4 linked regions of the Homo sapiens genome follow. The protein of the gene in region 4 purifies or fractionates together with the protein of the main gene of each other region. This does not show direct contact. Each region holds a gene or a part of one and is shown on either strand. Other genes may lie near its edges.

Region 1 (3,500 bases), on a different chromosome or scaffold from region 4:
TAATTTTGATACTAGGTCCTCAAAATCTGTGTGTGTTTTATACATACAACACATCTTAGTTTGAACTAGCCTCATTTCAGGCACTCTGTAGCCTCATTTGGTGGGTGGCTACTGGCTTGGACAGCATGGGTCTAGGTCTTTGTGGAGCAACCCAAGATGTCTGTTGATAATGGCTATGCTGGGAGGGTCAGGCAGAGGGTGGGTGTTAAGAATATTCAGAATTAGGAGTTTTGGTGTATGTAAAATGTGGTATGTGTAAAATGTGTTTTCTTGGAGTCTAATACAGAATTATTTAAAATCCTTTTAAAATCAAAGGAAAATAAGCTTATTTCCAGTTTCTTAAATATCGTAAAATAATAAGGTAGATCTGCGAAGGGTAATAAGAACATTTGCAGTGTTGACCATAATATACCATATCTTTATAAATCCAGATTGCAGGATTTTAATGAGTGACTTCTACTTCACCTTTAGTAAAATGAAGACCTCTTCTGTGCCTTTTTGCACTCCCGTAGCTTCCTCCTTGCCAAATAATAGCACTTGAGACTATAAGTGCCTGCCTCACTGTCTGGGGCCCAGGAGACCCTAAAAGGTCATGGAGGTAGGGTCTCTGTGGGGATTACCAAGCCCAGTACTGATGGGATTGTGGGCTGCCTGAGACAGTTGACAGTCATGTCCACTGTGTGGCCAAAATTCCACAGACATAGCGTGAGTGTGTTTTGCGCTGTCATTCTTTGTTAACTTCATGTAGGCTGTTTCTTTAGACACCAGAACATCTATATAGCTGATGACAAAAATAGATTTTTCTTACGTAATATTAGCGCATGCCCTAGGTGGATTGTCAGAAGAATCTATGTATGTTGTCATTTGACCCCATGAAATACGTCTGAGGTTTAAAAGTGCAGCTGACAAGCTTTTCAGCCTCAGTCGGTTCTTACTACTTGATGTTATCAAGTCATTCATTCCAAGTGGGATTTCTAAGAGTTTTGGCACATTTCTGAGGAAGGTGGAGCAAAGTGAAGGATCATTCTGCATGCTTCCATAGGTGGTTATTGTTTAACCCCAGAACGTGCAGTGATCCTAGTTGGAATGAGATCGTAATCACAATCTCCCCTCCTTCCATCATTTGTAATGGGTCTTGCTCTGGATGTCAAAGCAACTCTGGTGGTAGGTTCACATTCTTTCTTTGCCCTGTCTTCCCTGGAGGCTGACAGTGTACCCTTGGGTTTTACCCTTGCTAGGTGAAATGTAGGTTCTCTTCCACGTTTGCAAAGGAGATGGCTGAGGGTGGAGGCCAGTGTGAGGGCTTGGGACAGAGATGAACCCTTATCTCAGGGGCCATGATTGGCCTTTCACTACAGGGTGATCAATGAGTAATCTGTTGTTTCTGGAAACTGAAAAGGCTTCTGGAATATAGAAAGCACAAGACACGTGTGTTCCTATTAAGGGTCCGAAGAGATTTAGAGTAAGATGCTATATTGTATGTTGGAGAAACAGCATCAGATTATAGATTTAGCTCCGTTTGGTTCTGTTTTCTAATTGACCTGAACCATGCCAACCTTAAGTTCTTGTAGTAAGTGGTTGGTTGTCCACTGCAGCTGTTTCTGTTTCTAGAATAATTGAGAAGGGGGTAAAACTTAAATTGCAAAATTCTGCAGATAAATAATAAGAGTTTTGTCCAGCTGGCAACACAAATATTCAGCAGATTCTAGGCATGCAGGTGTAAAATATCCTTTTCTTTTTTCTAGCTCTCTCTTTCAAATAAAAGCAATATGGTTTTATTTAGAATCTTTAAGTAAACTGGATACAGGCATGTGTGAGAACTATTGTGGGTTCAGTTCCAGACCATCACAGTAAAGCAAACATCGCAATAAAATTAGTCACATGAAGTTTTTGGTTTCCCAGTACACATAAGGTTAGGTTTATACTATACTGTATTCTATTAGGTGTACAATAGCATTATGTCTAAAAAATGTACATAACCTTAAATACATTTTATTGCTTTAAAAAAAAAAGTGCTAGGGATCATGTCATCCTTCAGTGAGTTGTAATTCTTTTGCTGGTGGAAGGTGTTGTCTTGATATTGACTGTTGACCAGAGTAGTGGTTGCTGAAGGTTGGGGTGGCTGTGGCAATTTTAAAAAATAAAACAGCAATGAAGTTTGCCACATCACTTGATTCTTTCTTTTACAAAAAAATTCTCTTTTGGCGAGGCATGGTGGCTCATGCCTATAATCCCAGCACTTTGGGAGGCAGAGGCAGGCAGATCACTTGAGGTCAGGAGTTCGAGACCAGTCTGGCCAACATGGCAAAACCCCATCTCTACCAAAAATACACACACAAAAATTAGCCAGGCATGATGGTGCACACATGTAGTCCCAGCTACTCAGGAGGCTGAGGCCCGAGAATCACTTGAACCCGGGAGGCTGAGGTTGCAGTGAGCCGAGATCCCACCACTGCACTCCAGCCTGGACGACAGAGTAAGACTCTGTCTCAAAAAAAAAAAAAAAAAAAAATTGGAGTCCTCTCAAACTCTGCTGCTGCTGCTTTACCAACTAAGTTTATGTTAATATAGTGAATCCTTTGTTGTCACTTCAACAATGTTCAACAACATCTTCACCAGAAATAGATTTTTATCTCCAGAAACCACTTTCTTTTCGCGTCCCTAAGAAGCAGTGTCTATTCAGTTCAGGTTTCATCCTGAGATTGCAGCAACTCAGTCAAATCTTCAGGCTTCACTTCTAATTCTAGTTCTCTTGGTATTTCCATCACATTCTGCAGTTACTTCCTCTGCTGAAGTCTTGAACCCCTCAAAGTCATCCATGAGGATTGGAATCAACTCCTTACAAACTCCTGTTAACATTGATATTTTCATCTTTTCCCATGGATCATGAATGTTGTGAATGGCATCTGGAATGCTAAATCCTTTCCTGAAGGTTTTCCATTTACTTTGCCTAGATGCATCAGAGGAATCACTATCTATGGCATCTATAACCTTAGGAAATGCATATCCTAAGTAATAAGACTTGAAAGTTGAAGTTACTCCTCAATCCATGGGCTGCAGAGTAGATGTCGTGTTAGCAGGCCTGAAAATAACACGAATCTCCTTGTACATCTCCATCAGAGCTCTTGGGTGACCAGGTACGTTGTCAGTGGGCAGAAATATTTTGAAAGAAATATTTGTTTTTGAGCAGTAATTCTTAATAGTGGGCTTAAAATATTCGGTAAACCATGCTGTAAACAGATGTGCTGTCATCCAAGCTTTGCTGTTCCATTTACAAAGCCCAGGAAGAGAAGATTCAGCATCATTTTTAAGAGCACTAGGATTTTCAGAATTGTAAATGAGCACTGGCTTCAAGTTAAAGTCACCATCTGCATTAGCCACTAACACAAAAGTCCGCCTGTCCTTTAAAGCTTTCAAGCCAGACACTGACTTCTCCTCTCTAGCTATGAACGTCATGGGTGGCATTTTCTTCCAATAGAAGGCTGTTTTGTCTACATTGA
Region 2 (3,500 bases), on a different chromosome or scaffold from region 4:
AAAAATCTGCCATCCCAAATAACAGTGGACAGGCCGTTGTCTCCCTGTGCCTGTCTGACCCCATTTTTCCCACCCCCCGCCTCCCTCCAGGGCATTAACCTGTCTGGGGGCCAGCGGCAGCGGGTCAGTCTGGCTCGAGCTGTTTACAGTGATGCCGATATTTTCTTGCTGGATGACCCACTGTCCGCGGTGGACTCTCATGTGGCCAAGCACATCTTTGACCACGTCATCGGGCCAGAAGGCGTGCTGGCAGGCAAGGTGAGGCCTGCCAGAGGCTAAGGGGGCTAAGGTGAGATCTGAGGCCCGAAGAGAGAGCTGGTGAGAGGCTGAGGGGTTTGGATGAGACTTGGAGGTGTGGGGGGCGCAAGAAGTGGGCATGTGGGTTGGGCATCAGGAGAAACCTGTGGGGACAACTCCCCCACCTGCGAGGTTCTGAGCAGGCTGTGGCGAGCACAGGGTGAGTCACCCATGTGCCTGTCCAAGCTCCCTGGCACATGGGCACACTTCACACTCACTCTGTGGCTCCGTGCCTGTGCCAGGGGTGTGCTGGAGGGTGGTAGGGGTGAGAGCCTGCTGCCTTCTCCCCAGACGCGAGTGCTGGTGACGCACGGCATTAGCTTCCTGCCCCAGACAGACTTCATCATTGTGCTAGCTGATGGACAGGTGTCTGAGATGGGCCCGTACCCAGCCCTGCTGCAGCGCAACGGCTCCTTTGCCAACTTTCTCTGCAACTATGCCCCCGATGAGGACCAAGGGCACCTGGAGGACAGCTGGACCGGTATCTGCCATCCTGGGCCCTCTGATTCCCATGCCTTCCCAGCATTCCCCCTGTCTGGGGTCTCTGAGTGTGTCTAGACTGGCCTAGTGTTGTGCCAGGCAGGTTCTGGGAAACTTGGGCCATCTGTGTGACAGTCACCAGAGGTAAAGTAAACTGGACATAGTCGGGTCCCACTGCCTCCTCCATCCTACTCTACCCTAACTGTGGGAACTCAGATCCTCCGCCCCGGTCTCAGAGCCTGTTTTCTTTCTTTCTTTCTTTCTTTCTTTCTTTCTTTCTTTCTTTCTTTCTTTCTTTCTTTCTTTCTTTCTTTCTTTCTTTCTCTCTCTCTCTCTCTCTCTCTCTCTCTCTCTCTCTCTCTCTCTCTCTCTCTCTCTCTTTCTTTCTTTCTTTCTTTCTTTCTTTCTTTCTTTCTTTTTTTTCTTTTGAGGCAGAGTCTGGCTCTGTCGCCGGGCTGGAGTGCAGTGGTACAATCTCAGCTCACTGCAACCTCTGCCTCCCAGGTTCAAGTGATTCTCCTGCCTCAGGCTCCCGAGTAGCTGGGACTACAGGCATGCGCCACCACGCCTGGCTAATTTTTGTATTTTTAGTACAGACATGGTTTCACCATGTTGGCCAGGATGGTCTCGATCTCTTGACCTCGTGATCTGCCTGCCTCGGCCTCCCAAAGTGCTGGGATTACAGGTGTGAGCCACCTTGCCCGATCTCAGAGCCTGTTTTCCATCTGTTGAAAGCATAGGAGGGCCCAGGCCCAGCTTGTGTGGCAAGGCTGCTTCATGGATAAATAGTTTGGCAAGTATGCAAGTGCTTAGCAAAGCCGCTTATTTATCAACCAAAATTTATTGGACAATCACTATATACAGGCACTGTTCCAGACACTAAGCTATAGCAGTGAGCAAACAAAAAAATTATAGTCCTCATGGAGCTTGTTGACGTCTCTGGGCTCACAACATGCCCCTGGCTCCTTGTTGCCCAGACCCAGCTCCCCAGCCCCCAATTCTGGATTGGCTCACAGACCTTTTCCTGGGCTTTCTTGCCTATGGCTATACATACAGCCAACGTGCCTTGAGCATTTACCAAGTGCTGTGCCCCTCGCTCACACACTGGACACATTTTCTTTTAAGCCTACAGTCATGCAGATTTTTTTTTTTTTTTTTTGGGGACAGTTTCTCACTCTGTTGCCCAGGCTGGAGTGCAACGGTGCGATCTTGGCTCACTGCAACCTTTGCCTCCTGGGTTCAAGCGATTCTCCTGCCTCAGCCTCCCGAGTAGCCAGGATTATAGGTGCCCGCCACCACGCCCGGCTAATTTTTGTATTTTTAGTAGAGACGGGGTTTCACCATGTTGGCCAGGCTGGTCTCGATCTCCTGACCTCGTGAGCTGCCTGCCTCAGCCTCCCAAAGTGCTGGGATTACAGGCGTGAGCCACCATGCCCGACCAAGGACGTGAGTTTTAAGCTCAGCCAGTCTAACTCCAGAGCCCAAGTTCCTAACCCTTGTATTTGAGTCCGTTTCTCCATAATTTGTGAAGAGAGTTTTTCTTGTTGCTTAACCCAAGTCTTTCTTGTTGCCCTTTCAATCCCCCTCATTTTATTTTCATGCTTGTCCATTGAACCCCTTTCATTAGAGTGGGGAATGGGAGATACCAGGGGCTTGCAGGGAGAACTAGCTGAACCCTATCTCCTTCCTCCCACCCTACTGCAGCGTTGGAAGGTGCAGAGGATAAGGAGGCACTGCTGATTGAAGACACACTCAGCAACCACACGGATCTGACAGACAATGATCCAGTCACCTATGTGGTCCAGAAGCAGTTTATGAGGTGAGTTCCTGAGAGCTCCCAGCCCTCCCGGAGGCTGTATCAGGCCTCCCCAGGCCCTGCCAGATGGGGTGCAGGTTTCTCCCTGACACTCCCAGCCTCTGTCCTGGGGGGTGCTTGAGGCCCCCTCCCTGGGCCTGACCAGCTGCCTCCACAGACAGCTGAGTGCCCTGTCCTCAGATGGGGAGGGACAGGGTCGGCCTGTACCCCGGAGGCACCTGGGTCCATCAGAGAAGGTGCAGGTGACAGAGGCGAAGGCAGATGGGGCACTGACCCAGGAGGAGAAAGCAGCCATTGGCACTGTGAGTCGGTGGGGCAAGAGGGGCTGGAGGGGATGGACAGGCAGGCCCCAGCAGCCCCAGGGTTTATGGAGTCCCCTGTCCCTGACTGCCATGGCTGCTCCCTACAGGTGGAGCTCAGTGTGTTCTGGGATTATGCCAAGGCCGTGGGGCTCTGTACCACGCTGGCCATCTGTCTCCTGTATGTGGGTCAAAGTGCGGCTGCCATTGGAGCCAATGTGTGGCTCAGTGCCTGGACAAATGATGCCATGGCAGACAGTAGACAGAACAACACTTCCCTGAGGCTGGGCGTCTATGCTGCTTTAGGAATTCTGCAAGGTGAGCTTGTGGGGGTGTCCAGAAGGGGCTCCAATATCCCTTCTTCTCTGGGCTGCCAGGCCCCCCAAACCGTGCCCTTGCATCCAAGCCTCCCTAACCCACTCTGGTCAACCCGTGTCTCTGATTCTGCCCCTTTGTGCCCGCTCACTAGTCCAGGTGAGCCAGCGCCCTCTGCCTTCTCCAACAGGGTTCTTGGTGATGCTGGCAGCCATGGCCATGGCAGCGGGTGGCATCCAGGCTGCCCGTGTGTTGCACCAGGCACTGCTGCACAACAAGATACGCTCGCCACA
Region 3 (3,500 bases), on a different chromosome or scaffold from region 4:
TTTTGAGATGGAGTTTTGCTCTGTCACCCAGGCTGGAGTGCAATGGCCTGATCTCCACTCACAGCAACCTCCACCTCCCAGGTTCAAGTAATTCTCCTGCCTCAGCCTCCCAAGTAGCTGGGATTACAGGCACCTGCCATCATGCCCGGCTAATTTTTGTATTTTTAGTAGAGATGGGGTTTCACTATGTTGGTCAGGCTGGTCTCAAACTCCTGACCCCAAGTGATCCAGCCACCTTGGCCTCCCAAAGTGCTGGGATTACAGGTGTGAACCACCACTCCTGGCCATGATTGTTATTTTGTATTGTTTTGAAATCAGGAAGTGTGAATCCTCCAACTTGATTCTTATTTTTCATGATTGTTTTGACTGTTCTGGATCCTTGAGTTTCCATGTGAATTTTAAAGTTAGCTCATAATTTCTACCTGGCAGCCAGCTGGGCTTTTGATGGGGATTGCCTTGACTCTAGATCAGTTTGGAGCCATCAGTTTTCTAAGTCTTTAACTTATTCAACTCGTTTAATCTTACCTACCTTGGAGGTAGGTCCTACTTTTATCCTCATTTCACAGAGGAGGAAACTGAGGCCCAGAGAGCTTAAGGACCTTGTCTGAAGTCACGCAGCTGGCCAGTGGCCAAGCCAGACCTTGAGCCGGTGGCTCTGGAGCCCGTGGCTCTGGAGCCCGTGTTTGTAACCACTGTGCTGAGCTGCCTCTTTCCCTGGGCTTGTTGTCTTTGACTCTGCCTTCCCTGAAGGGTGACATTCCCTGGCCATGTCCCTGTGGTAGGGGGCTGCATCTCTGGCAGACCCCACAACGGCTTCACCTCCTTGTGTTCCAGGCAGCCGGTGAAGGTTGTGTACTCCTCCAAGGATCCTGCCCAGCCGAAAGAGAGTTCCAAGGTGGATGCGAATGAGGAGGTGGAGGCTTTGATCGTCAAGTCCCCACAGAAGGAGTGGAACCCCTCTCTGTTTAAGGTGTTATACAAGACCTTTGGGCCCTACTTCCTCATGAGCTTCTTCTTCAAGGCCATCCACGACCTGATGATGTTTTCCGGGCCGCAGATCTTAAAGTAAGACCCCTTCCCTCCCAGGTGGGCTCCATTTTCCCTCCTTGGCTTTGATCTTTCAGTTGCATCAGTCATAACCCTGGGGTCATGCTGTGTCCTGAAGTGGGCTCATAGCCAGATGTCTCCATTTTTACTTTAGCTTTTTTGAAAAAAATAGAGACAGGGTCTTGCTTTGTTGGTCAGGCTGGTCTCGAGCTCCTGACTTCAAGCGATCCTCCTGCCTCGGCCTCCCAAAGTGCTGGGATTGCAGATGTGAGCCATGGTCACTGCCTAGCTTTACTTTATGCTTTACTTAATTACCATATTAGTGAAGACCACATCGTTTGCAAGTAACAGAAACCCACTAGGCTCCCCTAAAACCCAAATGGGGAGGATATGGCATTGTCTTGGGAAACCAAGAGCAAGGAAATGCCAGCAGATCTCATGAAAAAACTGCAACCAGGGTTGGGCGCAGTGGCTCATGCCTATAATCCCAGCACTTTGAGAGGCTGAGGTGGGAAGATCACCTGAGGTCAGGAGGTCAAGACCAGCCTGGCCAGCATGGTAAAACCATCTGCTAAAAATACAAAAATTAGCCGGGCGTGGTGGTGCACGCCTGTAATCCCAGCTACTCAGGAGGCTGAGGCATAAAAATTGCTTGAACCCAGGAGGCAGAGGTTACAGCAAGCTGATTGCATCACTGAACTCAAACCTTGGCGACAGAGCAAGACTTTGTCTCAAAAAAAAAAAAAAAAAAAAAAAGAATAAAAACAACAACAAAAAACTGCAACCAGGAACTGGGGAGTCAGAAAGGAAGTTGCCTCTCTCCTACCTGGCTCTCTGCTGCTCTGTGACTCAGGGGCTACACATCCCTTCTCTTTTCCTCCCTACCTCTTTACCTCGTGTTCCCTATGCAATTCCTTTGGGTGACTTGCTGGTGATGAGATATAGCTAGAGCAATTAGTGCACAACCCCAAGGCAGAGGCCTCTTTTATGAGCAGTTTGGGTCACCTGCACAGCCAGATCACCACTGTGGACTTGTTTTTCCATCTATGAAATTGAAGTGATAGTGTCTAGCTCATCTGGCTCAGGAGAAAGTTGCAGTGCCAACACTGAAGCTCTCTTCCCTGCCCCCACGTGTCACAAGTCATTCCAGGCCCTCTCTTTGCTCCTTTGCAGGTTGCTCATCAAGTTCGTGAATGACACGAAGGCCCCAGACTGGCAGGGCTACTTCTACACCGTGCTGCTGTTTGTCACTGCCTGCCTGCAGACCCTCGTGCTGCACCAGTACTTCCACATCTGCTTCGTCAGTGGCATGAGGATCAAGACCGCTGTCATTGGGGCTGTCTATCGGAAGGTAGGGGACGCTGTGCCATTGGCATGTGGCCCGACTTCCACATCCCCTCCTGCAGCCCTGGGTTACTCTGGGGCCAGCGTGGGGATTTCCAGCCCAGCTTCTGGAGCAGTAGGATGAGGGTAGCTTCCGTGACCTTAGGTGGCAGGGACAGCACGCATCAGGCATTGTACGTTAGGAAAGCTGATTTCAAGGGTGGGCGTGTAGATGTCTTTGTGTATCAGCTGTGAGTAATTGAGTTTCTTAGATGGATCAGTGGCCCTTGTTGTGGGGAAATCCAAGTTTGGATCCTCATTCTGCTGTTAACATTCTGTGTTTCAGCTTGTTGTCACTCTTTTTTTTTCGTTTTTTTGAGACCAGGTCTCACTCTCTCCCCCAGACTGGAGTGCAGTGGCATGATATTGGCTCACTGCAACTTCTGCCTCCTGAGTTCAAGCGATTCTTCTGCCTCAGCCTCCTGAGTAGCGGGGACTACAGGCGCCTGCCACCACGACCGGCTAATTTTTGTATTTTTAGTAGAGACAGGGTTTCGCCATGTTGGCCAGGCTGATCTTGAACTGCTGACCTCAGGTGATCCGCCTGCCTCAGCCTCCCAAAGTGCTGGGATTACAGGCATGAGCCACCGCGCCCAGCCTGTTGTCACTCTTAATTTGAACTGAGCAGGTGGCACATTCCTTGCATGGTAAGAGTATGTAGCAGGCATTTGTGTACATCCAATTTCAAAGGACCTAAATTACCTTCTTGATCCCTATAAATTTTTTTTTTTTTTTGTCTCGAGGTCAAGGAAACTGCTTGGCTCCTAGGTTAGGAAGAGACAGTCTTGCAGGTACTTGATGAACTAGAGGAGTGATTCTCAGGCCTGTCTGTGAATTAGACTCACCTGGGGAGCTTAAACTGATGCAGGCCAGGCACTGTAGCTCATGCCTGTAATCCCAGCAGCTTGGGAGACCAAGGTGGGGGAATCACTGGAGGCTTGGAAGTTCAATACCAGCCTGGTCAATATAGCAAGACCCTGGCTCTGCAGAAAATTTAAAAAAATTAGCCAGGTATGGTGGTGCGTACCTGTAGTCCCGTCTACTCAGGAGATTGAGTTAAAAGAATCACT
Region 4 (3,042 bases):
AACATAATGGAAATAAAACAGGATATTGACATAATAGCACAAAATGACACTCTTCTAAAACTAAATGGGCACAAGAGAATTTTCCTGGGAAAGTTCACATCAAAAAGAGTGAATGTGGTATATTTCTAAATGATATGGAAAATAGAGACAGATTTGTCCTTTACAGAAATTACTGAGTGTGAATAAAAACTTCAGATCCAAGAAATATATAATGAGAGATATAATTTTTGTTAATAAGACAAAGGTAATATATTGGATACAAAGACACAAATGTATTGTGTGTTCAATTATTTTGTTGTCTTGAGATTTAATATTCTTTCCAAGAGCTTTTAATGAAGCAGAGAGCTAGTACTTCATTTTCACTGGATACATTTTCAGCATCATGAGTTGTCACAGCCTCTGAGCCCCTGATCTGAAGCCAGAAGGGCTGAGTGTATTGTAAACTTATTCTTGCATGTTGCTGTCTGGGAATGGACCACACTACAGCAGGTAGTTCTGGGGGCGATACTGCCGAAAGGCCCGAACACATGTATTTTGGCTGCAATTGAGGAACTTGGGATGCTATTAATTTTGTATTTCAGCAACTGCCCCTTCTCCTATCCCAAAGCACCAATTACTGCCCTCTGCCTCAGCAGTACCAGTATAAGATGACATTCCAAAGACTGGAGGCAACTCAGCCTGAGTTAATTCACAAAATTATGCCATGCTGGGGCTTGAGCTTGAGCTTGGGCTTAGGCTTGGGCTCAGCTTTTGACCCTCAGGCATCTCCTTTCCCTTCCTGTCTTCCTCTCCCTTCTCCTCTGCTGCAGCATGATTTTCTTAATCTTCAGACACTCACTATTTTCATGAACAGTTACCCTCTGTCCCCACAACCAAAGACAACTCATGGCCTCCTTTGGCCCTTGTGTAACATTGCAAACCTGTGGCTTTGCAAAATGTACCCAGGTCACAAGGGGATTTTTTTTTTTTTAGCAATGATATCCCTGTCTGGGTCACTTTTTAAGCTTGTAACCGCCCCCCCAGACTTATAATCTTAAATGTATTTTCCTTTGTTTAAGCTGCTGCTTCCTCTGTTTCATTGGATTGTGCCAGTTATCAGTGGCTCTTGGGTTCAAAGTAATAAAGAATTCCAAAACTGAGATGTTTGCTTTCTCTACCTGTTTCCTGTTCAGATGCCTTCGGTCATTTTGGCTCAGCTTGCTACTGAGAATGGCTGCTTCCCGTATTCAGAATGGAAGTGGGGTGGTCTGGTGGCGACAGGCTAACGTAGAGCTGGCTGCTTTTATGAGAATGCGCCACTTGACCCCATCCTGCACCTTTGTTTATTCCAGGGCACTAATGGTCACTCGCATGCCCGCTGTGCACAGTCCTGTGAGTTAAATGCCCACTACTCTCTGCACTGGTCCCACCTGCTCAATTGACAAAAAAAATCAGGTCCTTGTTGACAGTTCTGTTAAAAGGTTTAATATTCAAATTATACATTAAATAGAATCAAACAGGCAGCAGCAGTTTTATTAAGCATCAAGTCAGTTGGCATGTGGGTGGCGGAGTGCCTGGTAATGGAATAATAGGGTCGGCGATGCCCGCCAAGATTCCAGAGTAAGTCAGGTCGCTAGGTGAGTTGTGACTGATTGCTTTTCCTGCAGCGCACGTGAGCAGTATCAGCCATCTCTCTCCTACCCGCTCCACAGCCTACTGCTGGCTGTCCTGTATGTGAGCTAGCAGCTTTTTAATCTACCTGGAACTAAGGCCAAAAATTATCAGCCCTTTCGTTCTGGAAGGAGAGCTGATCTCATTTGTCACCTGAACAAAAAGCAATACTTAAACTGAATTAAAACTACCCACACGTGAAGCTTCTTGGAATTGTCAGCTATTGTTGGCGTAAGACCTGGTAAATGTAGAGCCAGTGCTGTGCCCTGACCTGGAGATCTAACAGACTTGGCAGAAATGCCTGTGCCCAGACTGAAGAGACCTGGGGCTCAGGAAGAGGCTCGGAACGCCTGCCCTCTATTCTATAGAAACTGCAGGCATAGGCCCTGATTACATTTTTTGCTCTTGGTAAAAGGAGTCAATGATACCTTTGTACTTCTCCAAAACTGTGAGCCGTTTCAGTTTCATCGTGGGACCTAAAAGGGAAATGAGAAGAAATGAGTGAGGCCCAGGCTCTGAGAACTCTGAGAATGTGTGTGGTAAAGACTCACACTCAGTCCTATATATAACTCAGGAATTAAGCCAGATAATCAGGACCGTCAGTAGCCAGCCTCCAAGACAGTGATCGCTCCTGGTATTCATATGGCTTGTGTGTAGTCTCCTGTGTTATACCACTGGTTGTGGCCAGTGGAGTATAGATGAAGGGTTGGTATGTCACCTCTGAGAATAGGTTATAAAAGATCAGTTTCTTTTATACACATAGGAAAGTAGTGTAAGCTACATCTGCCTTTTCCTTGACCTGTACCCAGTTTTGACCCTCAGTCCATTTTCTCTGAAATGGATTTATTTGTTCCATCTCTTGAATGAATAAATTGTTGAAGCAATTAAAAAATAGACTAGGTTTCTGTCTTGGGCTTTCTCTTGGACCATTCTTCCTGGGCAAGCCGGCTGCCATGTTGTGAGGATACACAGCCCATGAGAGGCCCACTGGCCACACACGGATGTTTCTGGCCAGCAGACAGCAAGGAGCTGAGGCCTGCCGACAGCCACGTAAGTGAGCGCGGAGGTGAGCCTCAGCTGCAAGTGACTGCACCCAGCTCACATTGACTGTAATCCCGTGAGACCCAAGCCAGAACCACTCAGCTAAGCTGTTCCTGGATTCTTGACCCATAGAAATGTGGATAATAAATGTTTACTGCTTTAGGCTGCTACATTTTTGGGGTCATTTGTTACACAGCAATGTATTAGATAGCTAGTACACATCATCTCTGCATTTTTGTGAACGTTTATACAACGTTGGACATTATGCTTTGATGGTTGTGATGGGGGTAGGGGAAGCCCAGGTTATGGGGAGCCTCTGCCATGGTCTTTATGAGAGGTCTTCCCCTAATT

The links. The genes of interacting proteins can lie anywhere in the genome.
Region 1: the proteins of IDH3A (region 4) and PUDP fractionate together in Homo sapiens (co-fractionation; one large-scale study listed by BioGRID). This does not show direct contact.
Region 2: the proteins of IDH3A (region 4) and ABCC3 fractionate together in Homo sapiens (co-fractionation; one large-scale study listed by BioGRID). This does not show direct contact.
Region 3: the proteins of IDH3A (region 4) and ABCC1 fractionate together in Homo sapiens (co-fractionation; one large-scale study listed by BioGRID). This does not show direct contact.

The regions. Positions count from the first base shown.
Region 1 is NC_000023.11:7,141,654-7,145,153, reverse strand, and holds part of PUDP (pseudouridine-5'-phosphatase), read left to right. Parts: intron 1-3,500. UniProt on the Homo sapiens protein: Dephosphorylates pseudouridine 5'-phosphate, a potential intermediate in rRNA degradation. Pseudouridine is then excreted intact in urine.
Region 2 is NC_000017.11:50,672,881-50,676,380, forward strand, and holds part of ABCC3 (ATP-binding cassette sub-family C member 3), read left to right. Parts: intron 1-90; coding exon 91-258; intron 259-588; coding exon 589-778; intron 779-2,481; coding exon 2,482-2,596; intron 2,597-2,750; coding exon 2,751-2,895; intron 2,896-3,002; coding exon 3,003-3,210; intron 3,211-3,397; coding exon 3,398-3,500. UniProt on the Homo sapiens protein: ATP-dependent transporter of the ATP-binding cassette (ABC) family that binds and hydrolyzes ATP to enable active transport of various substrates including many drugs, toxicants and endogenous compound across cell membranes.
Region 3 is NC_000016.10:16,043,616-16,047,115, forward strand, and holds part of ABCC1 (multidrug resistance-associated protein 1), read left to right. Parts: intron 1-834; coding exon 835-1,065; intron 1,066-2,220; coding exon 2,221-2,398; intron 2,399-3,500.
Region 4 is NC_000015.10:78,169,404-78,172,445, forward strand, and holds the end of IDH3A (isocitrate dehydrogenase [NAD] subunit alpha, mitochondrial precursor), read left to right. Parts: 3' UTR 1-2,040; coding exon of another isoform or gene 2,041-2,126; 3' UTR 2,127-2,542; downstream 2,543-3,042. Other genes in the region: long-chain-fatty-acid--CoA ligase ACSBG1, read right to left, coding at 2,079-2,126. UniProt on the Homo sapiens protein: Catalytic subunit of the enzyme which catalyzes the decarboxylation of isocitrate (ICT) into alpha-ketoglutarate.